Linked DNA regions of Homo sapiens. The protein of the gene in region 1 interacts with the protein of each later gene in a pairwise test. Each region holds a gene or a part of one and is shown in the gene's direction. Other genes may lie near its edges.

What was found.
Region 2: the proteins of RTN3 (region 1) and RAB33A interact in a two-hybrid assay, tested with the Homo sapiens proteins (one large-scale study listed by BioGRID and IntAct).
Region 3: the proteins of RTN3 (region 1) and ZNF391 interact in a two-hybrid assay, tested with the Homo sapiens proteins (one large-scale study listed by BioGRID).
Region 4: the proteins of RTN3 (region 1) and GLP1R interact in a protein complementation assay, tested with the Homo sapiens proteins (one study listed by BioGRID).

The regions. Positions count from the first base shown.
Region 1 is NC_000011.10:63,687,997-63,691,564, forward strand, and holds part of RTN3 (reticulon-3), read left to right. Parts: intron 1-3,568. UniProt on the Homo sapiens protein: May be involved in membrane trafficking in the early secretory pathway. Inhibits BACE1 activity and amyloid precursor protein processing. May induce caspase-8 cascade and apoptosis.
Region 2 is NC_000023.11:130,174,894-130,178,461, forward strand, and holds part of RAB33A (ras-related protein Rab-33A), read left to right. Parts: intron 1-3,568.
Region 3 is NC_000006.12:27,387,539-27,391,601, forward strand, and holds the start of ZNF391 (zinc finger protein 391), read left to right. Parts: upstream 1-1,220; 5' UTR 1,221-1,537; intron 1,538-4,063.
Region 4 is NC_000006.12:39,055,265-39,058,832, forward strand, and holds part of GLP1R (glucagon-like peptide 1 receptor precursor), read left to right. Parts: intron 1-1,132; coding exon 1,133-1,229; intron 1,230-2,207; coding exon 2,208-2,315; intron 2,316-3,568.

The DNA.
Region 1 (3,568 bases):
GTAGAGGGAGGAGTCAAGATGTTTCCCAGAAGGCTTGGCATGAATCAATATGCTTAAATACTTATGCAGATTCTGACTAATAAATGTTGTTATGATACATTAGGAAACCCCTTTCAGCACAGAGGCAAGCATACAGGAGACAGCAAGAATGGTCATGTCAATATGGCCTGCAAATGCCTGCTGACTTGGATTGTTTTTATTCTCCAAGAATAAGAAGTGTGTTTTGCTTTTTTTTTTTTTTTTTTGAGACGGAGTCTCGCTCTGTCGCCCAGGCGGGAGTGCAGTGGTGCGATCTCAGCTCACTGCAACCTCCATCTCCCAGGTTCATGCCATTCTCCTGCCTCAGCTTCCCAGTAGCTGGGACTACAGGTGCCCACCACCACGCCTGGCTAATTTTTTGTGTTTTTAGTAGAGACAGGGTTTCACCATGTTAGCCAGGATGGTCTTGATCTCCTGACCTCATGATCCGCCAGCCTTGGCTTCCCAAAGTGCTGGGATTACAGGCGTGAGCCACCACGCCCGGCCAAGAAGTTTTTTTTTAATGCTGTTTTTGTTTATTGTCAAATTCACAAGTAATGGAACCACTCTGATCAAATTAAACAACCAATCTACATACATTTAGTAGGTGCACCCTTACCCTAAATTGTCATTTCTAAGGGGTTGTTCATTAAGTGGCTGGTAAGAACCTCAGTGTTTTTATTCTTGGTGTTTTAAAGATGGGCTGAAAATAAAAACCAATATTACTGCTTTTATCAAATTATCCTGTGAGGAAATAATATATTTATCCTGATATAGGAGTTACCTGTCTAGTCCTGTGCATGTTTCAAGCCTTGTAAAATGAAGTTTGGTCATGAAGGAATTGGTGACGTCTGGTTGAAGGGAAAAGGGAAAGTTGAGCTTTCCAATTTTGTTTGAGTCAAGAGTATATTTTGCAGAAAGACACTTCTCTTTACCCATAATCCTAGAATTTACCATTTTTGTAATTCTGAACAGAATTACAAAGGCTTCATTAAGTAAGTAGGTTTTCTAATATAAATGTGCATATTTGTTGTGTGCACTTAGCTTATAGTTTGTGTTAACTTTATTGTTGATGATGAATTTAGCCTCCTAAAGTATACAAACTTGTGAAAAATTCATCAATTTTGTAGTATAACTTTTTCTCTTAATTTAGCTAATACTCTTTGTATTGTTCTAATTTTGGTATATGTGCTGCTGAAGTAAGCACTCATAGTAAAACTTTTTAGACAAAAATTAGCAGGTCGATATTTTGTTCTTATAATTGACTTATTCAGAAGTTGCCCAGAAAACTGACTTAACCTTCTATTCTGTTCATTTATGACAGCTACTAGTTGTAGAGTTATTTTGGATCATAGGGTATGGTGTTGATGTTTTGAAAGAAGTGTGTGTGTTAAATAAGTTTAGCTGTAATCAGTATTGCTTGTGATTGCATCATTGAAGTCTTCTGGGCATCTGTGAGTTTTGTAAGACATGTTACTCTGTGATATTGCAACCTCAGAGAGAATCTCTTTAAATACTGTAACGGGGTTTGCATTTCCATTTTACGTATGGGAGAAGATTATCAGCAAGTGGCCTGCTCTTGTGATTTTTTTTTTTTATTTCAAATAACTATTCTTACCTGTTTTCTCCAATCAACTGATTTATTATCTCCTATAACCATATCATTGTAACCTAACCAGAGAAGACAGTGAGCTTATCAGCAAGTGGCCCACTCTTGTGATTTTTGATTTTTTTTTTTTTATTTCAAAGAACTATTTTTTTGAGACAGAATCCCCCTCTGTTGCTCAGGCTGGAGTGCAGTGGTGGGATCTCTGCTCACTGCAACCTCCGCCCCCCGGGTTCAAGCGATTCTCCTGCCTCAGCCCCCTGAGTAGGTGGGATTGCAGGCTTGTGCCACCATGCCCAGCTAATTTTTGTATTTTTAGTAGAGATGGGGTTTCACCATGTTGGTCAGGCTGGTCCCGAACTCCTGACCTCAAGTGAACTGCCCCCGCCTCGGCCTCCCACAGTGCTGGGATTACAGATGTGAGCCACCACACCCAGTCTCAAAGAACTATTCTTACCTGTTTTCTCCAATCAACTGATTTATTATCTCCTGTAACCATATCATCATAACTTAACCAGAGGGAACGGTGAGCTTTTTGACCTGTTCCTCATTGGTAGCTCGCCCTTCAAGATATATGGAAGGACATTCTGGAAAACCTTTTGTTATGAAAATTGTGTCCTGTTATTTGAACATATTTCAGTGGAGGGCATTGTCTTTATTTTACGTATGAGATAGAAGTACTTGATTTTCACGATATCTTACATTTGTGTACTGCTTTATGATTTAAGTTGTGCCCATATGTTACCTTAATTCAACAACTGAGCATACATGAAGGCTCTTTGCCAGGTGCTGTGGAAGACAGAAAGGTAAATAAAATATAGATCATTCCTCTAGAGGCCATATTCTATAGAGGAAAGACTTGTATTATGTTTATCTGTGAGGTAGACAGGTAGCGATATAACCCCCTTCTTACAGATGGGGACTCAGGCACAGAGAGTTTAATGCCCACGCTTTAAGATTTGAAGCAACATGTAGTAAAAGTGGCTCAGTTACCCTTTTGAATTCAGTGATCAGTTTAATTTAAAAGTCTTAATTTCTGGCTCCACGGTTCTTAAGCCAGGTGCCTTTTTATTTCACTGCTCTACAGAAACTTTCTAGTCAAGTTCACCAGATATTTTCCACATTGTTAAATTCAGTGGTCACTTCATCCTCCTCTTAACATGCTTTCACAACAGCTTTTGACATAATTGATTATTCTCTCCTTGAAATGCTTTTTTAATTTGTCTTCTGTGACACCACATACTCACTCTCACTGGCTTTTCATCCTCTGTCTCCATAAAATTCACCATTTTAAGGTGGGTTTTAGTGTATGCACAAGGTTGTACAGCTATCTCCACTATCTAATTCCAGAACATTTTTATTACCCCAAAGAGAAACCCCATATCTGTTAGCAGTAATTCACCGTTCTTCCCTCCCCTCAATTCTCTGACAACTATTAATCTGCTTTCTGACTCTGTGGATTTCCTTATTCTTGAGATTTAATATTGCTAATTCTTTTTTTTTTTTTTTTTTTTTTTTGAGATGGAGTCTCACTCTGTCACCCAGGGTGGAGTGCAGTGGCACGATCTCTGCTCACTGCACCATCCGCCTCCTGGATTCAAGCGATTCTCCTGCTTCAGCCTCCCAAGTAGCTGGGATTATAGGCATGTGCCACCATGCCCAGCTAATTTTTGTATTTTTAGTAGAGGCAGGGTTTCACCATGTTGGTCAGGCTGGTCTTGAACTCCTGACCTCAGGAGATCCACCCTCCTTGGCCTCCTAAAATGCTGGGATTACAGGTGTGAGCTACTGCGTCCGACCTAATTATTTTTATTTTGATAGAGACGAGGTCTCACTATGTTGCCTAGGCTGGTATTGAACTCCTGGGCTCAAGCGATCCTCCTGCCTTAGCCTCTCAAAGTGCTGGGATTATAGGCATGAGCCACAGTGCCTGTCCCAATCTTT
Region 2 (3,568 bases), on another chromosome or scaffold:
TCCAATCATTATGTTCCCCACCCTCACCCCATCAAAGCATTTACAATTGAGTCCTGATGAACTCAATTGTATGAACATCAAGAAAAGCCTCCAATGAGTAGGCAATAATAATAATAATAATAACAACTATGTATTGAATAAGCAAAGAGCCCAGGCTAGGCACTTTACATGCATTATCTTATTTACTCCTCACAGCAGCTTTATGAAATCAGCAGTATTGTTATCATTCCCATTTTATAGATAAGGAGACTGAGGCTAAGAGAGATGAAATAACCCAGTGGCACATGGATCTGAGCTTCAGCCTTTGACTCTTGAGCCCAAGCACTTCGCCACCTCACTATCCTACCTTTCCTGTTACAGGGCCACGATTTCAACCCAGATTCAGAGACCATGCCCTTTACCACTGCATTTCACTCTACAGGACAATATTCAGTCCCCTAGATTGGGGGAGTTTGACAGGGGGAGATAGAATGCCAGGCAGCCAGTCTTGCTCTTTCTTCTAGGCCAGGGACTTAGGGTTATAGCCCAAGGCCCCCAGGAGCCTTTCAGATGTCTCCTTCAATTTGTATCCAGGACACACAGAACTCAACTGGGTTTACTTTTTTTTTTTTTTTTTTTTTGAGAGGGAGTTTCACTCTTGTTGCCCAAGCTGGAGTGCAATGGCACGATCTCAGCTCACTGCAACCTCGGCCTCCTGGGTTCAAGCAGTTCTCCTGCCTCAGCCTCCTGAGTAGCTGGGATTATAGGCACCTGCCATGATGCCCAGCTAATTTTTATATTTTTAGTAGAGATGGGGTTTCACCATGTTAGCCAGGCTGGTCTCGAACTCCTGACCTCAGGTGATCCACCTGCCTCGACCTCCCAAAGTGCTGGGATTACAGGCGGGAGCCCTGGGTTTACTTTTTGCACCTTGATTATCTCAACTCAGGTGTGAGATGCAGAAAATGTTCAGAGATAAAAGAGATGTTACAGATTCTGTGATCCAGTGTCCTCCTCTTGCAGATAGGAAACTGAGACTCAGAGAGGGAAAGTGACTTGCCCAAGATCACACAGGGCCAGGCCTAGAACTCATGTCTCCTAATTCCCTTTCTGGTGCTCTTTCCACACATCATGCTGCCTGGCACAAAATCCTCTCTCCAGCCTAGCTCCATGGTCCATCCAACCCACAAGGCCACCTATGACAAGAATCCAGAGGGACATCATAAGAGATAGCTGACAGTCTTTCCTGACATCAGCCTAGGAAGGGTGGAGGCATCCCCCAGCCCCCAAAGGAAGAGTGGAGCTTCCCTTAATGACTATGATGTGTCTGTCACCTACAGATGTAGCTAAATTTATTGAGTCTGTCTCCTAAATGCATTGGAAAATGCCGAATAGGGGTGTGTGTGTGTGTGTAGAGAGGGAGGGTATGTAGTAGAGGGGAGGCTAAGAAACTAATTTTTGAATCATTCTTTGTATATTTGCATGGAAGCTTCACTTCTGTCTATAATAGTTTGGTTCCTCCCACAGGCTGGGCACTCCCTGTGCCCCAGCCCTGGGGACAAGACAAACTGCAGGTCAGCTGTGGCTATGGGCAGGTACAGCTCAGGACTGTGAGTTTCTGTTCCTCTACTGATCACTGGGGGAAAAAAAATACCTTCCTGTGTTACATTATCAAGTGGATGGAGGCTGAGCTAAGTGTTCCTTGGAAGCTGCCTGCAGTCAGAATGACATCATTTCTTCCTTAGGGCTTCTGAGCTTCTATCTTCTGCCAGTTAACTTAATGGTTAATTATCCATCAGTGTAAGTTTCTCTGTCTCCCTTGCTGCTTCTTTCTGTGTGTGAGTTTCTCTTTGTCTCTGTCCTCCTTTGCCATTCTCTGTGTCAGCTTTGTGTGTGGATCTTAGATGCAGATGGGACAGTCCAGCTAGTTGAAAACAGGTTTCTTTTAAACTTTTCCCATCATCCACTGGGGCATGCTCCAGAGGTTACAGATGTATTTGTCTCCTTTTTTTGCACTTCTACCCTCCCCCATCGGCCTCCAACAAAAGCACATTCATGCCTCATCTATAGAAAGATGCCAGTTAATGTTTCCTAGGGAAAAGAAATCCCCCTGTCAGCTAAGAGCACATGCAGGGGGTTGGGGGCTTGCTGAAGCTCGCCCAGAAAATAGTTCAAAAGGTTAGATATCTCTTTGGCAGTTCCCCATGCTGTGCCCCTCCATCCTCCTCCAGCACCCCATCAGTTCGGGCCTGCCCCCGGCCACCCATGGCATGTTGCCAGTATTCCTCTCTCCACCCCCTCCCCACTGGATGGCCTTTAGCTCTGTCTCACCTTCGAGAAGCCAAGCTTTCTGTGATTTCCAGGATGAGAGACCAATGGACCCAAGGAACCATACCAACAGGAGAGGGCTTGATGGCCTTTCTGAGACCAGAGCAACAACTAATATTTGCAGAGTGCTTGACATTTTCCAAAAGTCCTTTCTCATGTGTTATTTCACTGGATCATCCCAGCAACCATAGGAGGATCAAGGTCCCATTGCAGAGATGAGAAAAACAAGGCTCAGTTCAGGGAGGTTAAAAGACTTGTCTGGCATTTACTCAGCTTCTGAGCAGAAGAGCTGGGATGCTTGCTGCCTTTCCAACAGTGCTTGCTCAAGTTGTTGCCCATCTAGACTTAATGGTGGAGGTTTCAGGCCATGAAAGAAGGGAGAGTGTATATTAGGCACTGGGTCACATACTTACAAGGACTACTAATCCTCATAGCATCCCTACCTGATTACTATTGTTATCATCACTTTCCAGATGAGGACACTGAAGTCAGAGAAAGTAACTTACCTAAGGACACCTAACTTATCTAAGGACACCTAACAAGTCATGTACTAACATGACTTGGGCCGAGATCTGCACCCAAGTTGATTTGACTCCACTATACCCCATTGGCCATCTGACAGAAACAAGGATCTGGGGTACATGTATGTGGCTGTGGCTAAGAGGCAGTCTTCACCCCCATCCACTGTATGGATATGGTGCCCACAGGAAAGGAGGAAAGGGTGAGAGGAGAGGCAGCTGCGAAAGAGGAAGGAGATGCTTTCACTGCTTGGCAGGGGCCAGGGGTTTATGAAGATGCTGAGAAAGGAACACCTAACTCTCAAACAAAATGAGATCACTGCTAGGTAAGGTGGCTTGCCAGCACTTTGGGAGGCCGAGGCAGGATGATTGCTTGAGCCCAGGAGATCCAGACCAGCCTGGGCAACATAAGGAGGACCCCATCTCTATGAAATAAAAAAAATATGAAAATTAGTTGGGTGTGCTGGTGCGTGCCTGTAGTCCCAGTTACTCCGAAGGCTGAAGAGGGAGGATTGCTTGCGCCTAGGAGGTTGAGGCTGCAGTGAGCCATGATTGCACTGCTGCACTCCAGCCTGGGTGACACAATGAGATCTTGTCTGGAAAAGAGAGAGAGAGAGAGAGAGAAAGAGACCAGGCGTGGTGGCTCACACCTAGAGTCCCAGCACTTTGGGAGGCCCAGGTGGGCAGATCACTTGAGCCTAGGAATTTGAGACCAGCCTGGGCAACATGGGGAAACCCCATCT
Region 3 (4,063 bases), on another chromosome or scaffold:
AGGAATATTATTTAGCCATTAAAAGGCATGAAGGATACATGCTGCAGTATGAATGAACCTTGAAAACTTTATGCTAATTAAAAATAATCCAGACATAAATAGACAAATATTGTATTATTTTACTTATATGGCATATCTAGAACAGGCAAATTCATAGAAACATAGTGTAAAATAAAGGTTACCAGGGACTGTGGGGAGCAGGGAATAGAGACTGCTCAATGGGCATCTTTAGGGATGACGAAAATGTTCTAGAATTAGATAGTGACGGTGCTGTTGTGAATACGCTAAAAACTTTACTGTATGACTTTAAAATGGTAACTTTAATGTTGTGCATAGTTTACCACAGTTTGAAAGTGTTTTTAATTTTTAAAAATAGGAAATGATAAAATTAGACTTTATCTAATTCTTTCCAGCTTTATAATTTGGATCCTGCTCCTTTGTACTTCATGGCTCATGCTTTATACTTACTTGATGTTTCTATGGTACTTGTGCACAGCTGTCATGTATCAGACCTGCAGTTTTGCACATGCTTTCCACTCTTCTAGTTCCTCAACTATTTGTAAGGTTGCCCTCCTTTATGTTTTCCATTAAATCTTCCATTAGTCAAACCACTCCAGTGTCCCTCGTTCCATAAGTTTCCCCTGCTCTGAACTCCCAGGGCACATTGTGCAACTTCATTACCTTATATTAAAATTATCTGGAATTTTAAAAAATCTACTAGATTAGGGTAGTGTCCTGATTTTATTCATTTTTTTCTTTTGGTGAAATTTGAGACATGTCTTGCATTTAACAGTATTTAAGCAACTAGATTGTGCAACGGAGCCAGTTTCTCCAGACAGGCTGGAGAGACCACTTGCATCAGAATCATCTGGGGTGCCCCTTGAAAATGCAATGTTCCGGGCCAACGAGTCAATCTCGGAGTGTAAATCTTGTGAAGCTGTATTTTAACAAGCTCACTTGGTGATTTATTTGTGTACGCTATTTAAAACTCTGTGAACCACCGGTCTAGGCTATACTTTGCAGTGTATTAAGGTGGTCTTCGGCACCTCTCGCAGACCCCCTTCCTCTTGCCTCTAGCGCCAACCTCTCAGCCTCTCGCATACCAGGGGAGGGGCTTTGCAAAACCTTCCACGAAAGTGAATCCCAGCACAGCCCTGCTGTAGCTGGCTCTCAGGCGCAAGCGCAGAGCTGCGACCGCTGCTGATACGTTGCTCAGTCTCAGTGTGGTCTCTGTTTTGCAACTGGTCGTCCGCGTCAGGAGACTTAGGTCCAGGCGACTGCCCAGACAATGACTGGTCCCGCATACCGAGCAGAGCATGATCAGCAGCAGTCTGAGTGGAAGAGTGCCTGTGATCTTAGGGAACCTGATGGGCGTTGGAGCAGCGGTTCGACGCATGGGTTTCTCTTTAATCCTTCCGACTTCCCCAAGCCCAGCGCACTCAGGTTCCGCTCCAAGTGCGGGACCCGCCCGGGGTGTGTCGGGGGTACTCGGCCGGAGGCGGCCGGTGAGTGAGGCTTACAGGGCCCCGGGACCAAGGTGGGTGCTCTTAGAGGTTCTGGAAAGCGGAAACACGGGTTCTTCGAAGGAAACGGGCGAAAGGGTCGCGTGTGGTTTGGCTGCAGGTCGGGTCAGGAGGCACCTCCACGGTTGGGACGCCGCGTGGCGTGGGGTCATGAAGCCCCCAGCGCTCGTCTCACTGGCGGGCCAGCCTAGTCCCTCTGCGGCAGTGACAGCCAGTGGTTTTCCCCGGGTGTATCCCTGGGAGATGAAAAAGAGCAGGGTTGCTCCCTGCTTCCCCTCTAGCTGGGCGAGGGAGGTCTTCGGTACTGGGGTGTTTCCCAGGTGCTTACTGAGTGCAGGCACTGCTCCAAGAGTTTTTACCTGCATTAACTCATTTAATCCTTGCATCAACCCTATGAAGTAATGTACTATTATTATGCCCATGTTACAGATAAGGAAATTGAGGCACACAGAGATGAAGTACTTGCTTGGCCGGGCGCAGTGGCTCACGCCTGTAATCCCAGCACTTTGGGAGGCCAAGGCGGGCGGATCACCTGAGGTCGAGACCAGCCTGGCCAATACGGTGAAACCCGTTCTCTACTAAAAATACAAAAATTAGGTGGGAGTGGTGGCGCGCGCCTGTAATCCCTGCTACTCGGGAGGCTGAGGCAGGAGAATCACTTGTACCCGGGAGGCAGAGGTTGGAGCGAGCAGAGACCACGCCACTGCACTCCAGCGTAGGCAACAAGAGTGAAACTCCGCGCCCCTCCCCCCCAAAAAAGAGAAGTACTTGCTTGAGTGCCAGTCCTTAGTTTATGTTTCTGATGATGAAGGTTGGTACTTGAATAAAGTAGTTGTTAATTATTTGTTGTGGGTGTATTGACAGTTACTGTGGATCATTGAGTTTGTGCTTTATGTGTGAGTTTGTGCTTTGAGCCAATATCTGGGAACATTGTTACCTGAAGATCACCTTTGGTAGGACAAGATTTTCTCTATTCTGTGATTAAACTGAGGCTGCCCAGGCAGTTCTGCTGATTGCTTTGTGGATTGGCAAAGGCTCCAGGAAGCAATCAACCTAGTGCCACAAAACAAAGCACCCAGAGAAGCCCTATTCCTGACCCTTCAAAACCTTCTTCCTTCTGAAGGGGGTAGAAAATAAAGGAGAATTATCCCTGGATCAGGAATTGATTATAGGAGAGACAAGCAATGTCAAAAGAATTTTAGATAATTAGGGTAACTGTGGTGGCCAGCGCTGTTAGTGCTAAAAAGTTTGAGTCACATAAAGGAATAGCAAACCACCAGGTTGGCTAGGGCTGCAGCATGTTGTGACCACTTAAGAGAATAATGATTTTGTAGGGATACAGTATCCAGAGAGCAGTAAGGTGACTCAAATAATGAAAGTATGAGGAAGAAAGGAGAAAAGGAGAGGCAACTTTCCACATTATGGTGGAGGAATCCCTTGGATGGACTCTGGATAAAGGTATAGCCCTAACCTCCTAGCATCTCTGAAATATGTTTGGGGGCTATCCCTGAAACTTTTGTCACATCCGCTAGACTTCCTTTTCCCATCTTACATACATCCTCCAAAGCCAGGAAAAAGAATGCATCTCTCCATGCTCTAGAGCAGCAGCTGCTGAAGGGAGACTCATAAATCCTCTGACAGCATCTTTCCTTAAACATACACCATCACAGTTTTCAAATTCATTGATGTGAGATGAGCACAGCAATAGCATCATCTCCCTTATACTATATATGATATTCTTTATTGTAAATGTTTTGCCATAGTTTAACTTGCAGTATTGATGAAAGTTTTGTAAGAAAAGACAAGCACATGCTAGTAATGGTGTTTTATAATGTGGGACGAGATTTTTCAGAAAAGTGACTTGACCAAGGAAGTGCAGCTGTAAGCAGTGTCATCTGTCTTCTATTTTGACCCTCAGGAAGAAGTAAGGGGACTAGTGCCATAGTGTCTTTGAACTCATACCCCATATGAAGAGAACGTCAAAGAGGCTGGATCACCTAAAGGGTTTAGAGAAAGTTTGGAATTGGCTCAGATCTGTCTTTTATCATAAAAGATGAACTTGAAACCCAGACATAACTGTCCATTGTCATTTTCTTTATATCTGAGAGGAGATGGGATTACTTTGGGGCATTCATTGTACTTTTTTTTTTTTTTTTTTTTGAGACAGAGTTTCGCTCTTGTCGCTCAGGCTGGAGTGCAATGGTACTATCTTGGCTCACTGCAACCTCCGCCTGCTGGGTTCAAGCGATTCTCCTGCCTCAGCCTCCTGAAGTAGCTGGGATTACAGGTGCCCACCACCACGCCCAGCTAATTTTTTTGTATTTTTAGTTGAGACAGGGTTTCCCCATGTTGGCCAGGCTGGTCTTGAAATCCTGACCTCAGGTGATCCACCTGTCTTGGCCTCCCAATCATTACTTCTTAATCCTTAGGGTTGCATTCAACAGGCTAGATGTGGACATTACTAGACAGAGGTTCTGGATGCCTTGGACTATGACCTTTGCCCATTTCTGCCTTTCATTAAAAATAAAACCAAGAGGAGG
Region 4 (3,568 bases), on another chromosome or scaffold:
ATTTTTGTGATTTCAAAAAGCAAAATGTTGTTTTAAATTATGTATGGGTCCTACATTTTATACATGGGGCTCTTGGGTCATTTCAGCATCTGCAGCCTCTGAAGGACGAATATTTATAATTTTTAAGGCTGTTCAGGAAAAAACTAAAAAGAACGACAACCCCAAGACATAGCTGAAGGAAGTGCACAAAAACACTCAGAAGGAATGGTGGATTCTCAGTGGGATGGGTCTGTTTGGGTCTGTGTGCTGAAAAGCCATTTCGGTGACCTCACTGGAAGTGGAGGCTCAGCTCTCCCTACTCACAGGTGAGAGGGATCCCTCCCATTGCACGTGTGACTTCAGTGTTCTGGAACCTCCCTGACCCCTTCACCTCATGTCCTCAGGACTCTTCCTTTGGGTGGATAGAAGCTGGGTTGAATATTAGATTTGGTTGCTGTGTCAGAGGGGAGCACGGGGAGGGGGTGGGGGGTGCTGTGTTGAGTGCATCTGTAAGTGAGTGCGTTTTGGAGGAGGAATGCTAATGGCAGACATCCCAGCTCTTTGTAGCCCTGAACGCCACTACTCTCCCCGGCCCCCGCACACCTTGCGATATTCTACCATGGTCACTGATCTGAAGGACTCCAGATTCTAGCCTTAACTCTGCTTCCTGGGGGGGCTGTGCACCCTTGATTCAGTTCCTCTCCCACTCTGGCCTGTGTGTCTTCTTCTAGAATGGTTGAAAGTGCAAGAAGCCCTCAGGCAGGCTGACTAGGCGCCAGAAGGAGCTTAGAGTCCTGGGCCCTCAGAAAGTCTCTCTCCTAAGTGAGATCAGAGATCACAAATGAGACACACACGCTCCTTTCCTCCTTCACCCACCCACCTCCCCAAAAGCATCAATTTAGCAGACATTTGCTGGGTGCTCGTGACACATCAAGCTATGCACCCTGGGAGGAATGAAGATGTCAAACCATCCACCTGGGGCCCCTGGGTGGCAGTGACTTATTCTCACTCTCTTTCAGAGGTGGCTGATGCCTGGCAGAATTTGGGGCTTTGAGGTTTCATGGAGATTGAGAAACCAAGTGTGTTAGGGGGTGAGGGGGCAGGAGAGGGGCTGGCTGAACCCACAGGCCTCCCATATATGCCCTCCCCCCAGGGTGCCACTGTGTCCCTCTGGGAGACGGTGCAGAAATGGCGAGAATACCGACGCCAGTGCCAGCGCTCCCTGACTGAGGATCCACCTCCTGCCACAGGTGAGTCCATGTAGGCTCCCCACCTTTAGTGCTCCCCACCCAACCAACTTCTGGAGGACTTTGATGAACTCAATGTCCATGGCTGGGAGCCATTTGCCTCTATAGGATGCCACCCCTGCCCTCTGCCTTCATCTCATTGTCCAAGCTACTCCTTCACCTGGATACCTTCCTTTCTGCCGACCAAAATCTTCCTTTTCTTCAAAGTCCGCGGAAGCACTGCCTCCTCCAGAAAATCTTCCCCAGGACTTCTGCCATCATTTGGCCCTTACTCGTTTGCTGTAGTCTGCTTTGGGGTTGCTGTCTTATTTCTGTCTTAGCTGTCTTATCTGTGTGTCCTTCCCTGCACCGCCGGCCAGCCCCCCAGCTAGAGCCTCTCAGAGCAGGCACCCGGCCTTTCCATTTTTGTCCTCAGCACCTCCCAGCCTGTGCATGGACTGAGGGCTCCACAAACATATTTATAGGAATAAATGTTTCAGGGAGTTCACAAGGTGGTTTAAAGAGCACGGGATTGGAGCCCGCTGGGCCTAGGTTGAAATCCTGACTGTAATTATAACACGTGACCTAAAGAAGGTTATCTTAAGTGAGATCAGAAGGAAGGTAAGCTAACATTTCCCTCTAATCTGTGAAGTGCAATTTAAGAATAGGCCCATAGGGATTTTTCATTGAGCACGTACTATGTTCCATTATCTATGTAGCATATAGTCTTGATCCCACAAAACCCTATGGGGCTGGAAATACTCCTGTTTTACAGATCAGGAAACAGACATTAAGTTACTTGCTCAAGGTCCTGCCACTGATAAGTGGCAAGTGCCCCTGCTTGGCTCTTGCTGGGTGGGGAAAGTGCTTGGCATACAGTAAGCATTCAGCAGAGGTTAGTGGCATGCAGCCTCCGAGGAGGGGAGGGGTCTTGGGGAAGGGAGGGAAAGGGCCATGGCCAGTCACAAGCAGGGACTCAGAGACTGTTCTTTCTGCTCCCAGACTTGTTCTGCAACCGGACCTTCGATGAATACGCCTGCTGGCCAGATGGGGAGCCAGGCTCGTTCGTGAATGTCAGCTGCCCCTGGTACCTGCCCTGGGCCAGCAGTGGTGAGCCCCCTCCCCGACCTGGTACCTGCCCTGGGCCAGCAGTGGTGAACCCCCTCCCCGACCTGGTATCTGCCCTGGGCCAGCAGTGGTGAGCCCCCTCCCCGACCTGATACCTGCCCTGGGCCAGCAGTGGTGAGCCCCCTCCCTGACCTGGTACCTGCCCTGGGCCAGCAGTGGTGAGCCCCCTCCCTAACCTGGTACCTGCCGTGGGTCAGCAGTGGTGAGCCCCCTCCCTAACCTGGTACCTGCCGTGGGTCAGCAGTGGTGAGCCCCCTCCCTGACCTGGTACCTGCCCTGGGTCAGCAGTGGTGAGCTCCCTCCCCCACCGTCCCCTGTATCGAGGAGGCTGAGGTCAAGGCGCTGCTTCCTTTCCTCTGAGACACAGCCCTCCCCACCCAGAATGTCTTTAGGCCTCCTAGTGAGTGGTCCGCCTGCCTTTCCTGGGGTGAGGGGAGCAGTCAGTAGTGATAAGTTTCATGATGGCCTGAGGTACCACCTGGGTCTGGGCGTGAGGCCAGTGCTGGCCAGTGTGTGGGGAAGGGAAAGTAAGTGTCTGAAGAGAAATGCGACCCCTTCCAATTCAGTAGTCAGGAAAAGAGCTGGGTGGGGACAGACTCTTGCGGGGAGGGAAGCTACCCAGGGTGTCTGCTGTGTGTATACATGTATGTATGATATGTGTATGCAGGTGGCCCATACCTGGCAGTGACATTTAGCTACTTCCTCACTCTTTAGAGGTTCACTGGGAGAAGTGATCAGGGCATTGGTGGGGTGACGAACCCCACCAGACTCAGCCCTCCTCAGCTCACTCCTGCCTGCAAGGGGGACCTTGTACTGGGGAAGATGTGACTGGGTAGGTGGGAAGGTCATTTCATTGGGGGTACAGAGATTTGCAGAGGCTGCAAGAGGATCCCTGACTGGAGGGTTAGTTAATGTGCCCCGCTATCTATCCCAGCCTCCCTTGCTGAGCCCAGTTTCACCCAGGCACCGTGGAGGATAACAGGAGACAAGCACCCTCATGGCAAGGAGCTCCCAGTCTCCATAAGGGGAGAAAAGATATTTCCCTATCATCATCATCATCATCATCATCATCACCATCACCATCATCATCGTCATCATAGCCAGCATTTATTGAGTACCTACTGTGTGCCAAGTCCTGCCCTAAAAGCAGGGCTTTATAACTACCCTGTGGTTATACCTGCTGTACAGATGAGGAAACTGAAGCACAAAAAGTTTAAGTCACTTGTTCCAAATGA